Linked DNA regions of Homo sapiens: region 1 is linked to region 2. Evidence: fine-mapped expression QTL. Tissue or cell type: gastroesophageal junction. Region 2 holds a variant in brackets; the other region holds the start of a gene. All regions are shown on one strand. Distances are from middle to middle.

Region 1 (9,052 bases), 810 kb after region 2:
AGGCAGGGCTAGGTGAAACAAACCTGCAATCATGACCTCGATCTCCCCCAAGGTGAGGTCTTCTAGATCTGTGAGGAAGAGGTTCACATCTCCCACCATGCAGCTCTCTTCGGTGGCGCCTGGCTGGGCCTGCCACTTCTCGGCATCCAGCACAATGAAGGTACACTCTGAGGAGGAGGTGACAGGGCTATCACACACACTCCCCAGAGGAGAGAAGAGAGGATGGTACTCCTACCCAAGCCAGAGCACTGCAGAACACCAGCATCTCTGAGTCTGCCAGGAGAAGAGGGGGTCCCAGAGCTTCCTTCAGCTCATTACAAAATTCCAAATCTGCCTCATACAGAAAAAGCCTCTCCAACCAGCAACCAAATTCTCAGAGAGCAGGGAACACAGAGGAGGGCAGTCACCACACTAGGCTGTGGTGAGGGACATGAGGGGCAGGGCCTCAATTTACAGCCAGAGCCCCAAATGCTCTACTTTCTCCAAATCCTTCCAAGCCCGATGCAGTGGGTGGGGAAGAGGACAGAAGGGTCAGCCACAGGGACTGGCTTCAGGGCCATGAGAATACAGGAGTTCCAGCACCTTCCAGGCTTTTCACAAAGCTTCTATGGCCGGGGCTGGGAAAGGGAAGGAACCTGGAGACTGACTGTGGAGTCAGCCCTCCCAGTACCAGGGCTAGGGGAAGTGGGGGGGCACTCCTCACTGTCTGCATCTTCCTGCCAGCTGCACTGCATGGCATACTCCTGCTCCAGGGTCAGCGGCTCCGAGGCTGTCAAACGCTGCAGCTCCTCTGATTTCATCCACTCGTGGTACCTGCTGGGACAGAGGGGTGGCTTTAGACATGGAGGACTCATTCAGAGGCATACGTCTGACACCTTATGAGGGTCCAGAACCAGACAGGGCTAACATAGGGCTCAAAGAAGACCCAAAGGGTTATGATTGCTCCTAAGGCAGGGGCCACAGACACAAGACCCAGAAGCAAGCTAGTCTTACACAAGAACAGCAGGACGAGTCAGTTCTATCTGTCCAATTTCCTATCCTGTCTCGGGTCAGTGCGGAGGAGCAGTCTGAAACCAAACATTCTTCAAATTCCAGAAGGGGATGTATATGGCAAGCCAACCTCAACAAAGGCGGCTGGACAGATCCCACGAAGTTAGGGCACCAGGAACCCTCAAACGGAAAACTACAAGTAGAGAATACCCATCTACAGCACCACTATCCCAATCTACCAGACATGTGCCAACTGCCCCCACAGGAATCCCATCATGACTCAGTCCTGGCCTTTTGAATGGTAGATATCACAACTCATCAGCTCAGAGTTCAAGGACAAGCTAACATTAAGTCTCCAAGAACTGAACATACTCACTGGCACCAGGGAAACATCACTAATTTACAATTAGGTGAGAAGACAATTTCTTTTTCTTCCACGTTTAGTTTACATAAAGCAATTCCTTGCTGAAAGGCCAAAAAGCTGAGAGAATGAAAGGGAAGAGGATGGGCAGCTCCTCCCAAGGAAGTCACAGTCCCCAGGTTCTGCTATTTTTTTTTTTTTTTTTTTTGAGACAGAGTTTTACTCTTGTTGCCCAGGCTGGAATTACAGGCATGTGCCACCATGCCCAGCTATTTTTTTTGTATTTTTATTAGAGACGGGGTTTCTCCACGTTGATCAGGCTGGTCTCTTTTTTTTTTTTTTTTTGAGACGGAGTCTCGATCTGTCACCCAGGCTGGAGTGCAGTGGCGCGATCTCGGCTCACTGTAAGCTCCGCCTCCCGGGTTCACACATTCTCCTGCCTCAGCCTCCCGAGTAGCTGGGACTACAGGCGCCCGCCACCACATCCGGCTAATTTTTTTGTATTTTTAGTAGAGACGGGGTTTCACCATGTTAGCCAGGATGGTCTCGCTCTCCTGAGCTTGTGATCCGCCTGCCTCGGTCTCCCAAAGTGCTGGGATTACAGGCGTGAGCCACTGCGCCCAGCCTTTATTTTATTTTATTTTATTTTTGAGACAAAGTCTCACTCTGTTGCCCAGGCTGGAGTACAGTGGTGTGATCTCGGCTCACCACAACCTCCACCTCCCTGGTTCAAGTGATTCTCCTGCCTCAGCCTCCCAAGTAGCTGGAATTACAGGTGCCGGGCAACAAGCCCAGCTAATTTTTTGTGTTTTTAGTAGAGATGGCGTTTTATCATGTTGGCCAGGCTGGTCTTGAACTACTGACCTCATGATCCACCCGCCTCAGCCTCCCAAAGTGCTGGGATTACAGGCGTGAGCCACCGCACCCGGCCGTTTTTTTGTTTTTGTTTGTTTTTGTTTTTTTGTTTTTTTTGTTTTTTTTTGAGACAGGTTCTTGCTCTGTCACCCAGGCTGGAGTACAGTGGTACAATCACAGCTCACAGCAGTCTTCATCTCCTGGGCTCAGGCAATCCTCCCACCTCAGCCTCCCTAGTAGCTGGGACTGCAGCTGTGCACCACCATGCCTGGCTAATTTTTGTATTTTTTTGTAGAGACAAGGTCTCGCTACGTTACCCAAGCTGGTCTCGAACTGCTGGGCTCAAGCAATCCTCCTGCCACAGCCTCCCAAAGTCCTGGAATTACAGGCGTGAGCCACGGCACCCAGCCTTTTTTCCCCCCTCATATATAATTATTTCTCACAACCAATGTTTCTTCTTAGGGGAAATAGCCCTGAGACTGGGGCTGTACCTTACACAGCTCTGGGTGCTGATACGCACCCCATGTCAAGCGGGAAAGATACCTGGGCACATGCTCCGAGGTGTAGGGTACAAGGACCACCTTCTTCCCCAGCAGCAAGGTGTTCTGATTCAACCTCATGGTAGCAGCCTGCATGCAGATGGGGAGAGCAAAGACTTCAGGACCCTGAATTTCCTCCAACTTTGGGTAGGCGCTCCAGCTTTCCTGCTGGGGCTAAGTTGACTTCCGTCATTAGTTCCGTCTAGACACTTCAAAGAATACAGACTCCAAAATTCTTGCAAGAAAGAGAACCAGGCTGGTTAAGGATAATTAAACAATCCTTGACTCCCACTCCAAGAGGCCAAGCCTGGGCTCCGTTTCTGCCGGTTCCTTCCGTCCACTCCCCAGAACTTCGATTCCTCAAACCCAAGCACCAAGTACCAAGTACCAAAGTATCCCCAGAGCTCCCATTACTTGCCCCAGTCCAGGGATTCCAACCCAGAATCAACTTTCAGCCCTGCCTTAAACCTACTTCCAACCTCTTACCCCGGCGACCACCCCACGGGGCTCTAGCCACTCCCTCCCCGCCCCCGACCACTTCAGGGCAAGGCGGGCTTAGTCTTAGGCCCTCCCCTTTGAGTGGCGTTCTAGACCACTCTCTTCGACCCTCCAACCACGCGGACCCGGGTACTGCCAAGCTCACACCCACCTACCACCGACGAAATCGTCCCCCGCAGAAAGGGTGATCTACCTCCTCCAACCAGCCACGTTCCCAGGCCCGGCCGGCTACCGCCCCTTCCGCATGCGCGTGAGAACGCGCCCCGCCCACTTCCGCCATGCTGACGGCAGCCGCCAGGCCCCAATCCCGGTCCCGCCCCCGCGAGGCGCCCAATCAGCGCGCGCGAAAAAGGTGGGCTGTGGGGCCGGCGCATGCGCGCTGCGGAAGCTGGTGCTGGACAGCTGGCGCCGGCAGCAGCGGACCGGCGGGAGACGGCGGCTTGGGAGCTGGCTGTGCTGCAGGTGTTGGGTCGGGTCGGGTCGGGACGGGCGGGAGAGGACGAGACGGGTCGGGATAGGTTGGGGCGGGGCGGGGCGGCACTAGACTCGGGACTCCTCCAGGAGGGAGAGAGAGGGAGAGGCTGGGAGTGGGGTTCTTGAGAAAAGAGGGAGCTTTGAGGGTGGGGAACCCTAAGAGAGTAGGTGGGGCCAGGGAGTGGAGGCCCCATTAAAAAAAGGAGGCCTTAGTGCCAAGAGTGGAGTTGGAAGGGCAATGTAGGAAAGCCCCCAGCTCCCTGCCCTAGGCAGAGGCGGCAGACAGTTCCTTGGGCTCCCATGTGTGGTAGTGAGCTCCTGGTTCCTGGAACTAAACGAGGATAACCACCCCAGAGCGTGGAAAGGGGGCTCTTGTGGTGGGTGAGACTTAGTGGTTTTAGAGGCCCCTTAAATCACTTGCACCCCGAGCAGCATTGAAAACATCCGTGCTGGGCACAGAGCAGTGCCCTGCACAGCAAGGGAAATGTTAGAAGAAACCGTCCAGATTTCTGTCATCCAGGGTGACCCCTCCCTCGGGGGTGAGTCTTGTGACAGATACTGAGGCCCTAAGTGTCTGTGATAAAAGAACCAGAGGTGGCAGGGGAAGTCTGCAAGCCTCCTCCCACCCCTGTCTCAGTCCATCAGATAGGTGAAGCCTGCTCTTTTGTTTTAAGGAGCTGCGGCAGCCGCCGTCCTTGCACCTAAGGAACCTCTGCTGCCAGCCCTTCCTCACTTTTGGAAATGGCGGGTGAAATTACAGAGACCGGGGAACTCTACTCTTCCTACGTGAGTGTGACTTATAGAACCTTTTGCTCACTTAAGTGTTCCTGGCTTCTAGAAAAGCACATTGCTTGCTGGAGATGGGACTAGTGAGTGCTGCTGCTTGAGCAGACCATAGTGGAAGCAGGATGGGGGAGTTCCATGGGGCAGCGACTACAGTGCTGCTGTGGTGGCTCAGAATGTAAGTCAGATTTATTCTCTTTTTAAGGTGTTTGTCAGAGTGGTCAAGCCAAACAAAATCGCCATGCTGTTTATAATGTTAATCCCGGGCTGGGCACGGTGGCTCACGCCTGTAATCCCAGCACTTTGGGAGGCTGAAGCGGGCAGATCACCTGAGGTCAGGAGTTCAAGACCAGCCTGGCCAACATGGTAAAACCCTGTCTCTACTAAAAATACAAAATTAGCCGGGCATGGTGGCACTGTAATCCCAGCTACTCGGGAGGCTGAGGCAGGAGAATCGCTTGAACCCGGGAGGCGGACGTTGCAGTGAGCTGAGATCGAGCCGTTGCACTCCAGCCTGGGCAAAAAGAGCGAAACTCTGTCTCAAAAATAAAGAAATAATGTTCATCTCCAGGCTACCACACTTGCCTGCAGTGCTGCCCTTCAGATGAACAGTGATTGACAGCTGTTGACTCTGGGTTTTGCTCATCTCAGCAGTTGGAAACCGCTTTGGTCTTTACTGAATTTTAAATTGCACAACTTTTATAGTCTTGGATGGCGTAAGAAGCAGCGAAAGCATACAGAGACTTCTAATTACAGTTTGGTGGACTCTGCAATTAGAACAATTAGAATGATTGATTCTCACTGTCTTAGGTCTGTGTTACCTCTGGCTGCCCCCAACACACACGCAGTTTATCTTCTCTATGTAACGTATGATTGGTCATAGTTGTTACATCACAGGGCCCTCTTGCCTGGATAAGTAGCCAGAGGGTTGGAATAATCAGATGGTTGACTCAGGTTGCTACCAACCCTCCCAGGCAAAAGCAGCACTGCCCTAAGTAGCAAGAGTTTTCTAGAACTTGACCTGCCTTCAACAGCTGCCCTGCCTTGTACATAGCTTCCTAGCCTGGGGATCTCTGGTCTGTTTCTGCTAGCTTCACAGACTAGCATTGTGGTGTGATGGACAAGGAAGTGTCTCCAAGACATTTCCTTCACAGCTGGAAGAAAGCCTTCCTGATTCCAGAGTCTTCCTATTGGGCCTGTGCCATTCATGTGTGGCAATAAAGGAGCCTTCTTCACCCATCACCTGTGTAATTTCTCAGGGGAAGTCTTTTTTTTTTTTTTTTTTTTTTTTTTGAGACAGAGTTCCACTCTTGTTGCCCAGGCTGGAGTGCAATGGTGCAATCTCGGCTCACTGCAACCTCTGCCTCCCAGGTTCAACCTCTGCCTCCCAGGTTCAAGCAATTCTCCTGCCCCACCCTCCCAAGTAGCTGGGACTACAGGCATGCACCACCCTGCCCAGCTAATTTTTTGTATTTAGTAGAGACAGGGTTTCACCATGTTGGTCATGCTGGTCTTGAACTCCTGACCTCAGGTGATCCACCCGCCTCAGCCTCCCAAAGTGCTGGGATTACAGCCGTGAGCCACTGCACCCAGCCTCTCAGGTGAAGTCTTTCATGAACCCTGGAATGGAATAAATAGTGTCCCTCTCATTTGTGGAATTATGTAACAGCTCCTAGCCTCCTGCTGTCAGTGATGAAATCTCTATGCTGTCTATTAATGTAAAAGTCACCACGGCTCCTGCTTTTTCTTACAACATCTGTAAATTTAGAGATAAGGAGATGAGTCATCCCTGTAACTAAGTTTTGTAAGGAAAACACTTGGATATGTCCCCATTTCTTGTATCTCCGGTTGTTTAAGGGGTCCTCTCACATGTCAGCATGTGCCCACAGGAAATGAGGCAGTTAGGCCTGCAAGCTTCAGTGCGCTCTGCCCGTTTTTGTTCTCCATCTCCTCTGTGTTTTATTTCGTTCAGGGTCTTTGTTGCCCAGAGGGCCAGCTCTGGGCATTGGCCATAAACAAGTGCTTGTGTTGTTTTATCCTACTGGTGAAGAGAGATGTAGGGAGGAGATGGGGTGGGATGGGGAGGGGATGATGTGACATCAAACAGGAGGTGTAGTGGTCAGTGTTCTGAGGGGAGAAGACACCTTCTTCCTAAGGGTTCCTTAACTCCCCCGTCCTGGAACAATTCTTGGTCCTCTGTAAGACCAGAAGAGTTGGTTGTCACTGAACCCAGATAAGCTGTGGAACTAACTCACTGCTGATGCTGGCTGCTCTGAGTTCCCCTGCAGGCCCCAGCTCAAGACAACGTGGGCAGAGCTCTGCCCTGGCTGCCTTGGGAAACCAAGACACGGGGCAGGTCATTCATACGTGTGCTTCAGCCCACGCGCATTTACAAGACAAAGCCTCTCCTTAGCTCTCTATTGCCCCATTCATTTTGAGTTCTTTTCCCCTTCAGGAGTTCCAAGGATGTTCGCTTTAGCTTGAATTATTCTGCCTAAAATATTTGTAACAAGCAGACGAACCTCCTAGGTGGCTCAGATGTCACACCCTCTCAAGGGTAGTGCTGAACACGGGAACGTGGTTCAGAGAGGTACATGTCCCCTTAAGGGATCTCAGGATAGGCATGTCTGTTTCCCCATTTATGAGGACCGAGAGTGACACAGAACTGAAGTGGTTGTTGTGTGATCAAAATACAGGATGCTGTAGGTCACGCCCGACAGAAGGGTCGGCCGCTGAGGGTGCCTCTGCCTGCTGGTTCCTGCTGAAGATTGTTGCGGTTGCTTTCGAAGGAGAGAGGCTTGTTTCACACCCTGAAATCCTAGTCATTGCTTCCGCATCTTTGCTGCCTTCTGTTTCCTTTGACAATTGTCAGAGGGGAAGCTGTTGAAAGATACTGGTGACATCTGCCCCATGCAGGTCATGAGTGAGGCTGCTGGGTGGAGACGAGGCATGTGGGATGCTGCACTGAGCTCTCTAGGGCATAGGAGAGCAGGCCAGCCGTCCCAGGGAGCAGTGCCTGTGCCTCCTCCAGTGCAGCCACAGAGGAAGAGGTGAGAATTGGAGATAACTCAGTTTAGAATGCATGCATTGGTCTTCATTATCAAGACTGCAGTAGAGCCTATTCCTCAGCTTTCTGCCACTGCTTCCCAGGAGTCTGGCCCACAGAACTGTCCCACGACCAGCAGAAGAGAACGTCTCCTTTCTCTTCCTTCCCCACAACCCCTCCTGACCCAACCTGTGGCTCAGCCCAGATTTGCTTCCTGCCTCTATGTCTGTTCATTGTGATTGGCCATCACTGATTACCTTTACAGAAGGTGAAGAGGACTGAATGCTCGCCAGGAGTGCCACAGTCCTGAGAAGGCAGAGAAGTCCTACGTTACCCTGCAGGATTCCCTGAGCCCCCACTAAACACACAGGGCTTGCTTTGGAACTGAAAAAATTGCAACAAAGCAAGACAACTGCAATTACCCATTTCTGCTCCCAACTGCCAATAGTTTCTCTCTTCATTCATTTCTTTGTAAAGTTCTTAAAGGTTCCTAAGTTTCTTTTGGGAGCATGCTTATTTCATTATACCTCTCTCTACAGCAGTGGTTGTCAACTAGCGGTGATCCTGCCCCCCAGAGGACAGTAGGCAGTGTCTAGAGACATTTTTGATTGTCAGGACAGTACTGGTTGGAGAGAGGTTGTTACCGGCACCTAGTGGGCAAAGGCCGGGGATGCCACTAAACATCCCACAATGCACAGGACAGGTCCCCATCATGAAAAAAGACCTGGCCCCCAAATTTCCATAGTGCCCAAGCTGAGAAACCCTGATCCACAAGAGACCTTTGACTTTTACATCCCAAGACCTTCAAGCATCCCTGAATTTACAAATGCCTCTTATACTGTTTAGTTTCCCCATAAAACTTTTGCCTAAGAACCATTACTTTCTTTTTTTTTTCTTAAGACAGGGTCTCACTGTGTCACCCAGTGAGCAATTACAGCTCACTGCAGCCTTGACTTCCTGGGCTCAGGCGATTTTCCCATCTCAGTCTTCCAAGTAGCTGGGACTACAGGCACTTGCCACCGTCCCCGGCTAATATTTTTATTTTTTTGTAGAGATAGAGTCTTGCTACATTGCCTAGGCTAGTCTCAAACTGCTGGACTCAAGCCATCCTCCCACCTCAGGAGTTCTGGGATCACAGGCATGAGCCACCATACCTAGCCTAGAACTGTCACTTTCTTATGCCTCTTTGCTTTCTCTTTACTTCCATTATGGGAACATCATTCTCCATAAAGAAATAAGGTTTTTTTCCCTTCATAAGTATTACTGCCTACAGAAGCGATAAGCAGAGAACAGAGCTGCAGGGAGGGCAGATGTTAGGTTTTCCGCTGGGGTCTGTTCTGTTAGTGCCCTGCTTAAAATGCTCCAAAACATCCAACCCCCTGTGCCATCCAAAAGGGCTCTTCGCAGTCTGACTGCAGCCTCTTCCAGCCCCACCCCTGCCCGGCTTGCTGTGCTTCAGCCACACAGGCCTTCTGAAAGCTCCTCGAGCCTACCTGCCTCTTTCCC
Region 2 (11,004 bases):
GTCACTGACTCTTTCTTCTTCCATTTCCAATCTACTACTGAATGATTCAAGGGATTCTTTTATTTCAGTTATATACATTTTAAGTGTAAAACTGTACTGCCCAATAATGTAATCACTGTGTGCCTTTTAAAATTCTAATTAATTTTTGGTTCATTCACAGCAGCTACATTTCAGGTGCTCAAGAGCCACATGAGGCTAGTGACTATTGTGTTAGACAGTGCTGATATAGAACAGTTCCATTGCTGCAAAAGTTCTTTGAACAGCATTACTCTAGAATTTCCATTTGGCTCTCTATGATAATTTCTATTTCTTTACTGTGATTTCTCATTTTGTATGTATTTTCCATATGTATATATTTTAAGTCTTTGAGCATATTTATAATAGCTGTTTTCAATTCCTTATCTACTAATTGCAACATTTGGATCATCCTGGGGTTGATTTCTACTGATGGGATTTTTTTTTTTTGGTAGAGGCAACATTTTCCTATTTATGTGTCTAGTGATTTCTGATTGGATACTAAACATTTTTTTTAAATACACTGTAAAGACTCTGAAGTCTGTTTTGTTTTTCTGTCAATTTATTCAGTCATGCAAGCCAATTGAGTATCTCAATCTCCAAAAATCATCTCCCCCTTGACCAGTAGCAACTAAAATCTCCACCAGTTTCTTCCACTTCCAGTTGCTTTTTTTTTTCCTGATCCTTATCATTATTATTAGACCAATATCATTATCAAATCCACCCAAAAAATTGTCAAGTCTCTTCTCAATATACATATCTTAGATGTGCCAAGAATTTGGGTGAATCTCATATGTATTTTGGGCTCTCCTCCTTTGAGGCACACTTCCTTCAAGTATTTCCTTCTTAACTTTTTTTTTTTTTTTTTTTGACACAGAGTCTTGCTCTGTCACCCAGGCTGGAGTGCAGTGGCATGATCTCAGCTCACTGCAACCTTCTGCGCCTCCTGGGTTCAAGCGATTCTGTGCCTCAGCCTCCCAAGTAGCTGGGATTACAGGCGCCCACCACCATGCCTGGCTAATTTTTGTATTTTTAGTAGTGATGGGGTTTCACCATGTTGGCCAGGCTGGTCTTGAACTCCTGACCTCAGGTGATCCATCCACCTTGGCCTCCTAAAGTGCTGGGATTACAGGAGTAAGCTACTGCACCCGGCCAACTTTCTTTCTTCCTGTCCGGAATGCTGTCCTCTGATACCTCAAGCCAATACAGTTGTAGCTTTCTACCACCTCAATTTATGCACAGATTTGGGAGTTCCAGGCAAAACGCTTCCAACTCACAAATATCATTCATGCGGTCTCACAAGGGCAGACTCACCTCTGGTTTCTGCCTACTTTTGGGTATTCCTCTGTGCTGTTTTGTGTTTTGCTCAGAGTTTATAATTGTCATCTGTGGAAGACTTACTGTGACCAAATTACTACACTACTACCAGAAGGCAGTAGCTCCCACCTTGTGTTTTTATTTTTTATAGTAAACTGAAATAGTCACTCAGTTTGTGTTGCTGAAGACTATTAACATTAAGGCATATCATCTTAGGAGGAGAAGCTTCTTGATAGCATAGAGGAAACGCAAAGCCTGGCCTCATACCATTAGCTGTCAGAGTCCAAAGTCATCAGTACCTCTAGGTTACAGTTGTCAGTGATTACTAAGGAACACAGACTATGTAAGAGGAAAATATCACAGTCCTAACTTGACCTAACCTTTCCTTCAATTACCTTCAATCCCTAGAAACAACTTTTGCTTTCTCTTCCATGGAAAGAAATGTTAGAGCTTGAGAATCGAATCAGCATTGTTATCATACCCACCCCCATTGTTATACCCACCCCCCAAAATTCTCCTTAAACCACCTCCTTAAATGCATAGATCATGCTCATACAGAAGCCTAACAGTTCAGTAGTAATCGGATGATAGATGTGCATGCGGGTGCTCAGAAGGCATATTGCATATGGCAGGGGGTAGGGAACCCAGTCTTGCCATTTTTTTAGCTGTGTGGTCTTGAGAATTTTTTTTAACTGCTCTAAGCCACAGTTTTCTCATCTGTAAATTTGGGATAATAGTATCTATTTTGTAGGGTTGTTAAGAAAGTTAAATTTTTAAAGTATAGAAAGTACCTATCATACTGTTGCTAACAGAAGACTCTCAAGAATTCTGTTTCCTCCCCTGCTTCCTTAAGATCTGTATACAATGCACTTGAGGTCTCTACCATTAACCACTTGAAATTCCAGTTGGAGGAAAAGTCTTACCAGCAAAAAGAAATTCCCCAAATTTATCCACATCAGTAATAGTTGTCTAGATACTTGTCACTCACCCAGAGTGACCCTGAACATGGCATCTTCAGTTCAGAATTTCTGAGGACTGCTTCAATTTCCTACAGTTTCATGGAAACTATACTTCATAGGATTCCTGGTGCAAGACCACTTTTCAATGCAGTCCTCCAATTTACAGGATCATCCAAGAAATAAGTCCCTTTAAATCATCTAGTATCCAGATGAGAAAACCTGTGACATCATAACTTCCATCGTCACTTCCTTAGGCTAATGAATTAATGCTGTTTGCATTCACCTGTCCTAAGATGAAATTCATGCAAACCTGATTGCATTGCCCCCAAAACTGGACAAAAGCTTCCAACCTGCCCAGGGCTTTTCATTCATTTTATCTTCCATAAAAGGCAACCATCGTTGAACCACTTTAGTGCCCACTGAGAAAAGACCTTCCAAGGTGTTGGATCTACCAGTGAACATCTGCTTCTCAGAATGTCAAGCAGTTATTGACTTTTTGCTTTGTGCGAGCACATTGCAATGTTCTGTTTCTTATCATGGGCACTTCGCCTAAAGTGTTGGAGCCGTGCTTATCCACAAAATGAGAGGTGGCCCTGAGGCTCTAATTACTTACCACTGAAGAACAATGTCATCGCAGGAGGAACAACCCACAAACTGTCTGCACAGGAGTCCAGCTGCTCCCCAACTATCTGTGCAAGCCTGTCCCTACAAACTACCTGCACAAGGCTATGGGGGATTTATTTCTAATGATGAACCAGTCCCCGGGACCCATGAAGGAGACTTGCCTTTAGTGCTTAGAACTAAAAATCAGATGTTTGCCAGTGAGTGCAGACAGGCAGTACTGAATCCTTCCCTGAAATGCCTCCCTGCTCATTGCAGATTAGGTTGAGCCACCCTCATATTAAGTTATCACTTGGATTCATTCACTCATTCGATGCTTATTGAGGGTCTACCTGTATAAAGACAGCAGTGAACAAAATAGCCACTGGCCCTGCCTGGAGTAGCTTATATTATAGTGCAGTGAGACAGATAATAAACAAATGGATAAATATAATATCATGTAGTGATAAGTGCTGAGGAAGAAAATAACAGAGAAGCCGAAGACAGGTGCAGTGCCTCAGGCCTATAGTCCTAGCTGAGGCAGGAAGATCCCTTGAGCCCAAGAGCTCAAGGCTGCAGGTGAGCTAGGATTGCACCACTGCACTCCAGCCTGGGCAACAGAGTGAGACCCTGTCTCTAAAAATAAAGAGAGAAAGTAAAGAAAATAATAGAGTAGGATCAAAGGCTAGAAAGTGAGGGAGTCAAGGAGTTATTTATTGCAGAGTGCTTAAGAAACCCTTCCCAGTAAGATAGTATTTGAGCAGAGACCTGAAGACCATGCACACACCTTAGAGAAGTGTGTCTGGTGGAGGCTGCAGTAAGGGCAAATGTCTGCAGCAGGAGCATCCTTGTTGAATTTGAGGAATGACAAGGGGAAAATGAGGCAGGAGCAGAGAGAGCAGGAGGCAGGGAGGCAGGAAGTGAGCCCAAGAAGTTGAATGAGGCCAAATCCTGTAGGGCCCCTCCTTCAGCTGATGCCGAGGCAATAGCAGCAACTTCCTAGCAGGCATCCTGGCTTCCAGTCTTGCTTGCCTCCAACCCATTTTCCGCACAGGTACTGGAGTGAGCTCCCTGATGTAACCAGGTTGCCTTCCTATGTAACACCCTCAAATGCTTCCATTCCATTGAGTGCAGGATCAAGCTCAAGCTCCTTAAGCTGTACCACAAGGGCTTCCTTGAAACTGGCGCCCCCTCCAGCCTCTCTTCTCTGTAATTTATGCCCCAGCACAACCAAGCTGCCTGAACTTGCCCCACTGCATGGAGCTCCTTCCTCTCCCAGCCATCACTCACGGGCCTCCTCTGTCTGGAAGGCACACACCAAATTGATTCAGCCAGTGACTCAAGAGTCAGGACCATAGAGGCCATTCAAGGTCAGTTACTGGGTGAACAAGGAGAAATCTATCCCAGGCACTGATAATAGGCATAACCAAGAATCAGCTCTAAGGATGCTATTAGGATCCAAAACCAAGGTAAGAAGAGGCAGATGCTCACACTGCAGGAACTGGTTAATTCCATCAGGGGATGTTTCTTAGGACAGGAACAACAAGTGTTGACTGAGTGCAGGCTTCTCATAGAAGACCCACTACACATCACAAGACATACAAAACACTGTATGTATGTGTTTTCTCTAATCCTCACAGCACAAATTATACAGATGAGATAAATGAGGTTGCCCAAATCCTAAGAAGCAGAGCTGGGATCCAAACCCCAGCAAATGCGATTCCACAGTCCATACTCTCATGCCTTCCAGAGCCGGGTAGGGAGGCAACAGCAGCATCAAAGATTGAAGGGTCCAGTGGCCGTGCCCTCCATGGAACCAGAGCCACCCACACACATGCATGCACTCGAAGAGGCAGCTACAGGGAAGGGACTGAAAACAAGCCTTGGTACCACCTGCCTGTGCTCAGTTCCTGGGTCTACATGGGTTAGCTCATGGCCTCTCTGTGCCTCAGTTGACTCAGCTGTAAAAACGAGGCAATTATTACTGGCACATAGGATTAGAAGAGTTAATTCCTGTAGAGCACTTACACAATGTCTGGTGCATGTTAAGTGCTCAATTAATGTTAGCTACACTAGCAAGACATGGCAAAGTCACACGAAAGTCCTCTTCCGGTCCACCCTGCTGGTCCGAGATCACTAGCACAGTGGTGGCAAGAAGTGGCCTGAATTTCAGAGAGCACAGGGTCAATATTTACCAGAATTTGCCTTTATTCTGCACTGGCCCGAAGAGGTGTTTTCTGGGGAGTCAACCCACCGCTTTGTGCAACCCTAGAGTGTGTCTTTGTGAGGAGGCTTCACCCTGCCCCACTCCTTTCCTGCTGCTCATTTTCATGTTCAGAGATGGCCACAGCGGTCACTGCTAGTTTAGTTCACTTCCTCTTCATTGTAAACTCCAAGTCCCAAACCTACCAGCCCTCACTCTCCTGAGCCGCTCAGCAGCCCAGCTGATTTCATCACAGCCATAACTCTCTAGAATAGCTGCCGTTACGCAACAGCTCCTAGCGCAAAACTGGTACGACTGTGTCTACTGCAATGTATTCATCAGTTTCCACAGGCATTTATTTAGTGCCTACTGTGTGTGTGTCATATAGATGCCTACTGAGCAGTCTCCCTCCACCATGCACCCCCACCATCACTGCAGACACGCTTCATTGTCATCCCTGAGTGGGAGCCATCTCTTTAGAGAGGGTATGAGATGTTTTGCCCGAGTTTGAGATAGTCCTCTCCTGGTGCCCCTCTGTTCCGTCCTCTCATCCCACGTCACCTGCTTGGGCTCCTCTCTGGCTCTAGCTCCTGCAGGGTGTCTCTTTTGCCTGGGTAGGAGACGTCCTCTCCCTCCTGATGCAGCCTCTGCTGTCTCTCCAACAGTCTGTGCTCAGCCTGGAGATCACCCCCAAAGGGGTCTGCTCCCTCGTCTCATGCCTACTTAACTGATCTGCCTCCAGCCATCACCGTCTCGGGTCTTCATGTCCCTGATGCTCTGTAGCCACCAAGAACATGTCCTGCTTCATAATCTCCTGTTGTTTTTTAAGCATTCCCTGTCACCACTCCCATCCCTATCTGTTGGGTATTTCTGCATCTCTGAGTTTCCTTTTTTTTTGAGACGGCGTGTCACTCTGGTGCCCAGGCTGGAGTGCAATGGCACGATCTCGGCTCACTGCAACCTCCACCTCCCGGGTTCAGGTGATTCTCCTCCCTCAGCCTTCTGAGTAACTGGGACTACAGGCATGCCACC[A/C]GTCCTGGCAATTTTTGTATTTTTAGTAGAGATGGGGTTTCACCATGTTGGCCAGGCTGGTCTCAAACTCCTGACCTCAAGTGATCTGCCCACCTTGGCCTCCCAAAGTGCTGGGATTACAGGCATGAGCCACTGCACCCGGCTTTCCTTCTCTCTTGAACACTGAGTTCTCAGCCATCTGTCCATTCATAAATCTTGCTACCCTCCTCGCCACTGCCCATCCAGAAGTCTACCAAACAATTCTAAGAACAAGTATTTTCACATCCAACTCCACATTTCCTTCCACGGCAGCTCCAGACTCTCAGACAGGTGGCCTTTGAACCCCAGATTCATGGGTATTTACAGACAGGTATCAACTCCACCATGAATCTAGAGTCTTGAAAATGAAAAAGAAATTTCAAATTGTGCCTCTGCTTTCAACTAGTATCACATTTCCGCTTTGCAAGAAACAGCAAGTGCAGCGTGGGTGACCAGATAGTGACCTGTCATTCCACACTCCTCCTGCAATGTCCATCAAGCTGGCTTCAAGTGAGTCTGCATATCATCTTTGCTACTGTGAAGATGCCACAGAGCTCTTGAGGGTACACAATAGGCATTCAGCCACACTCCTGCGCACATGGGTGCCTACAACTTCCCCATCCTTGTCTCAGGCTTATTTTTCTGTGGTATTAAAGGATCACAAAGAATTTCTAAGTCAGTCGAGTTCTTTGTTGCTATCATTAGTTGTAGTGCATGGAGGGGGTAAACAATGCAGCTTGTTCTTTTGCCTCTCCAGTTCCAGAGATTTATTTACTAGAATTTTTTTTTTTTTTTGCCATTGAGTTGGAAGAAATCAAGAAAGACTAATTACTTTCTTTTTTAGCTGAGCCTAAAGCTGGATACAAGGGTAAACCTGGGAGATTTACATCTGAGTGGCGGTTTTATGTCTCAGCCTGGAGGCGGTAGTTGAACCCACTGTGTCTTTGCATTTGTTTTTGGAAAACTGTGAGCATCACCCCCAGCATGGATGCCTGAGTGGCAACCAAGACCCTAATCTATAGCATGGGGTCCCCATCTGGACAATGATGCACCAATGAGTGCCGAGTAGAAGTGGATCCTATCCTCCTATGCTCCTCAGGATAGGCCACCCTGTGCTGTGAAAACAGACCACAAGAAACCCCAAAAGCTAAGTAAATGCCATGATGATCTTGCTCATGGATGCTCTGCTCATTGCAGTGACTTCAATGGCTACGAGAGACGCTGTCTCAGCCAGGGTAAGGGGATGCAGTGACTCACATTGGCTCACAGAGTAGACACAGCCGTGCCTACTTCCAGGGCTGGGGAGTGTGTCCTGCCACGTGCCCACAGCGGGGGCCACCGCGCTGATGATCACTGCAACTTGCACTCCTTTGAAGCTCTGGGGCTGCTCCCGCATCTGCGACAGTCAGCATAGCCCCTGACCACACCCTTTCTGCACTTTGGGTTCATGGGTTCATGGGTTCCATTTCGTTCCCCAACAGCAGTTTGGAAAACTTCTCATATATTTCTCCAGGTCACACCAACACAGGAGTGAAAACGGAGTTTCATCAGTTGAGAAGGAAAGAGGAGGGGAAGGAAGGGCAGGACAGGGGAGGGGAGGAGAGGGGAGACCTCAAGCTCATGCAGGTACAAGGGAGGTGTCCCCTGTACACTAGTCCCATGTCACTCGCCGGTGGCTCCTGGTCTGGCTGCAGCTGCTCTACCTTGCCATCCAGGTGCTCTGCCTTCTCTGGAACTTTGCCCTGTCGTCCTCAGACACCAGCTGTACCCCATCACCCTTGCATTACATGCTGGTACGTGGGCCACAGAGCAATATGAGCTTCTGTATTTGTATCCTTGCCTGACAGAAGTTCCCAGAACAGCTGGTGTGTTCCTGTGTCTGTCATTACCTTCTCCACACCCCAGGACAGAGAGACGGCAACAACGTAAAAAACACTCCCCACCATACTAAGTGACCCCTCCCCTCGGGCCCTGCACCTGTGCCCAAGAACCAACTCTACACTCCGACTCCTTTTCTCAGGATGGGTTGGTCTGTTTATTTTGCCCATAAGCCTCCTGCATTCCTCCCGCACGTCTCCTCCTGGCTGGACCTCTCCTGAATCCCAGGGCAGACAGAGGTTAGGGTCTTAAACAGCCCCCAGCATGCCCATAAGCAATGTCAGAGAAGCCACGAGGTGTCTACTGCAATGACAAGGAAGACATTGTTCACTGCTTCAATCACCGGAGAAGACAAATTCCCCACACAGTAGAGCCTGTCTGTGCACAGTGGGCTGAAACAGACACTTCTCCCCTCCAGAGTGCTGCAGAGGGGCCTCCTGCATTAGGAGAAAAGTTGGGCCAGGTGACCTCCTAGTCCTTCCAGCTCTGAGATTCAGCCATGTTCCTCCCAGCAGGGACTGATTGTATTTGCTTCACCCTTGGGAGCCAGCAGGGTTTGGAGCATAGAGAAGAGTGCACACACCCAGCGCCCTGGCTCCAATCGCCCCAGCTCTGTCCCTGACACAGCCTTCCCAGCTTTGGGGGAAGTCCTCAGGGGTGCGACAGGGCCCGGACTAGAGTGAAGCAAGTCCGGCCCTCAGTCCAGGCAGAAAATTTAGGGGGACCCCAGAAACTCACTAAACAAGATAATATTTATTGCGGCATTCTTAGGAAACCAACATGAAATAAAAACTATCCACAACGAACAAAATATCCAAATGTGGACTAAAGACAGGCCTTGTCCCTGTACTTGGACAACCCACACCCTAGTCCCAGCCCGGCCAGATCCTGTCTTTATTTCACATGTGGACAGCAGACAGTTTGCTCATCACAGATTTTCTCTGCTTCGACTATGTGTGATGGTCTTGACTCCTGAGTATTTGGCTGCCCCTTTTAAACGTGGCTGCAGGCAAGTGCCTCGCTCTCCCCATCCTGGCCTGGGTCCCGCCCCCCCCCAGGCCTCTGGAGCTGCCCTGCGCTATTTGCTCTCCCTCTCCTGTCGGCTTGGGCCGCCTTCATCTCTCATGGAGTTCCGGGCAGGGGACCACCCCTGTAGTAGACACTGTCGGTGCCCCAGCTACTCAGCCTTGGCCTTGACGGTTCCAACGCCCGTGGCTTCTGACTGCAAACACCCATGACTCAGTCTGGGAGCTTTCACAGGAGCCAGGAGCATGTTCACAGCCCACATCTGGGGAAGCCGGATCTGCCAGAGAATTAACCCCTATGGATGTTAAAACATCTCAGCTCCTCACCCCTCAGGAGGGATGATTTGGAATGATGTGGTGCACCTGGCCCTGAGGCCTGTGAAGGGATCCAGGTGCAGGATGTGGGCCTGGAACACACCCAGAGCCAGCTGCTCCCCTTCCACGCTCATTTCCTAGTCCCTTATCAGTGCTTCCTGGGATCACCTCCCCAGACAACTGCTTCTGGGGCCATCTGGCTGAGACAAACCAGCTGCCATTGCCACCTAGGGCCACCCATGCCCTGTCTACTGATGGCCCCCAGAGCCTCACAATGCCAATGCCACCTGGCTGAAGCCCCTTTGCTAATGCGGTCAGGTGGGACAAGGGGACAATCCCCTCTCCCATCCATCCCATGTCCCTTTGGCCCACAGACGGTTCTGGTGAGTGCAGGAAGCATCCCATTGCATCCCCAGCACCAGGCAGGGGGTCTTGTATGACAAACACCCTTCCTTTCCACTCTAGTCCTTCTGTGGCAGGCAGGTCTCACAGATGCAGGCTTCCATAACAACTGTTTCAGTACTGACTGAGTGGCTAAGCTAAATATTAAAAGCCAGCACCCTTACACAAAGGCTGGAATGTAACAAAGGCCCACCAGGAGTTTTGCCTAGGCCTTTCCTGGGCCTTAAAGCATGACAAGATAACAAAGGAATTCTTAACAGGACCCATTTAGGATTAAACAAGTTTTACTGGGGGTCTGAAGAAACTTGCCAAACCACTGTGACTTAGCCCGAGACAAGATAAGGGTAATCACCCCAGCACCTGGACCCATTTTAGATCAAGTAAATTTACTGAGGCTTCAGAGGAAGGTCTTCAGGACTCAGGCCTTAGGTATAGATTAAAATAAGTTAATCGCTTATGTCTTTTCTTTTTTTTTTTTTTTTTTTTTCCTGAGATGAAGTTTCGCTCTTATCATCACCCAGGCTGGAGTGCAATGGTGTGATCTCAGCTCACTGCAACCTCTGCCTCCTGGGTTCAAGCAATTCTCCTGCCTCAGCCTCCTGAGTAGCTAAGATTACAGGTGCCTGCCACCATGTGTGGCTAATTTTTGTATTTTTAGTAGAGACAGGGGTTTTACCAGGTTGGCCAGGCTGGTCTCGAACTCCTGATCTCAGGTGATCTGCCTGCCTCGGCCTCCCAAAGTACTGCAGGCATGAACCACTGCACCCAGCCAACTTACGTCTTTTTTTTTTTTTTCTTTTTTTTTTTTTGAGACGGAGTCTTGCTCTGTCACCCAGGCTGGAGTACAGTGGCACGATCTCAGCTCACTTCAACCTCCGCCTCCCGGGTTCATGCCATTCTCCTGCCTTAGCCTCCCAAGTAGCTGGAACTACAGGCACCCGCCACAACGCCTAATTTTTTTTTTTTGGAGAGATGGGGGGGTTTCACCGCGTTAGCCAGGATGGTTTCGATCTCCTGACCTCGTGATCCGCCCGCCTCGGCTTCCCAAAGTGCTGGGATTACAGGCGTGAGCCACCGCACCCAGCCCAACTTATGTCTTTAGATGAATGTACACTTATACTTAGATACATAGCTTAGAAAGTATGTAAGCTCTAGAAAACTTTGTAATTTTGAGTTCGTCTGGCAATATTTTCCAGGTCTTTTCCCTGTCACCAGTTGCAGAAATAAAAACTCTCTTCCT

Direction of the effects. Positions count from the first base shown, and alleles are read on the strand shown. Sizes are in standard deviations (SD) of each study's normalised expression.
As copies of A replace C in region 2, the expression in gastroesophageal junction of the gene that starts at base 3,473 in region 1 goes up (small effect, 0.12 SD a copy in GTEx).

Evidence for each region. PIP is the estimated chance that this variant, and not a neighbour inherited with it, causes the effect.
Region 1: it holds the start of NAT9, and the variant in region 2 is fine-mapped to the expression of NAT9 in gastroesophageal junction (GTEx, PIP 0.91).

Annotation. Positions count from the first base shown.
Region 1 is chr17:74,772,873-74,781,924 of GRCh38, forward strand. NAT9 (N-acetyltransferase 9) reads right to left here and starts at 3,473. Exons shown (of 7, transcript NM_015654.5): 1 at 3,395-3,473; 2 at 2,750-2,835; 3 at 704-816; 4 at 24-167. The coding sequence starts at 2,826. SLC38A12 (solute carrier family 38 member 12) reads left to right here and starts at 3,627. Exons shown (of 10, transcript NM_017728.4): 1 at 3,627-3,705; 2 at 4,392-4,503. The coding sequence starts at 4,459. RefSeq lists enhancers at 3,155-3,274, 7,185-7,234, 7,325-7,534 and a silencer at 8,113-8,282.
Region 2 is chr17:73,964,795-73,975,798 of GRCh38, forward strand. No RefSeq gene overlaps it. Among named protein-coding and RNA genes, the nearest start is that of LINC00469, 140 kb to the left of the region's middle. RefSeq lists enhancers at 8,856-9,555, 9,556-10,253. The variant A/C (reference allele first, on the strand shown) is at 6,127.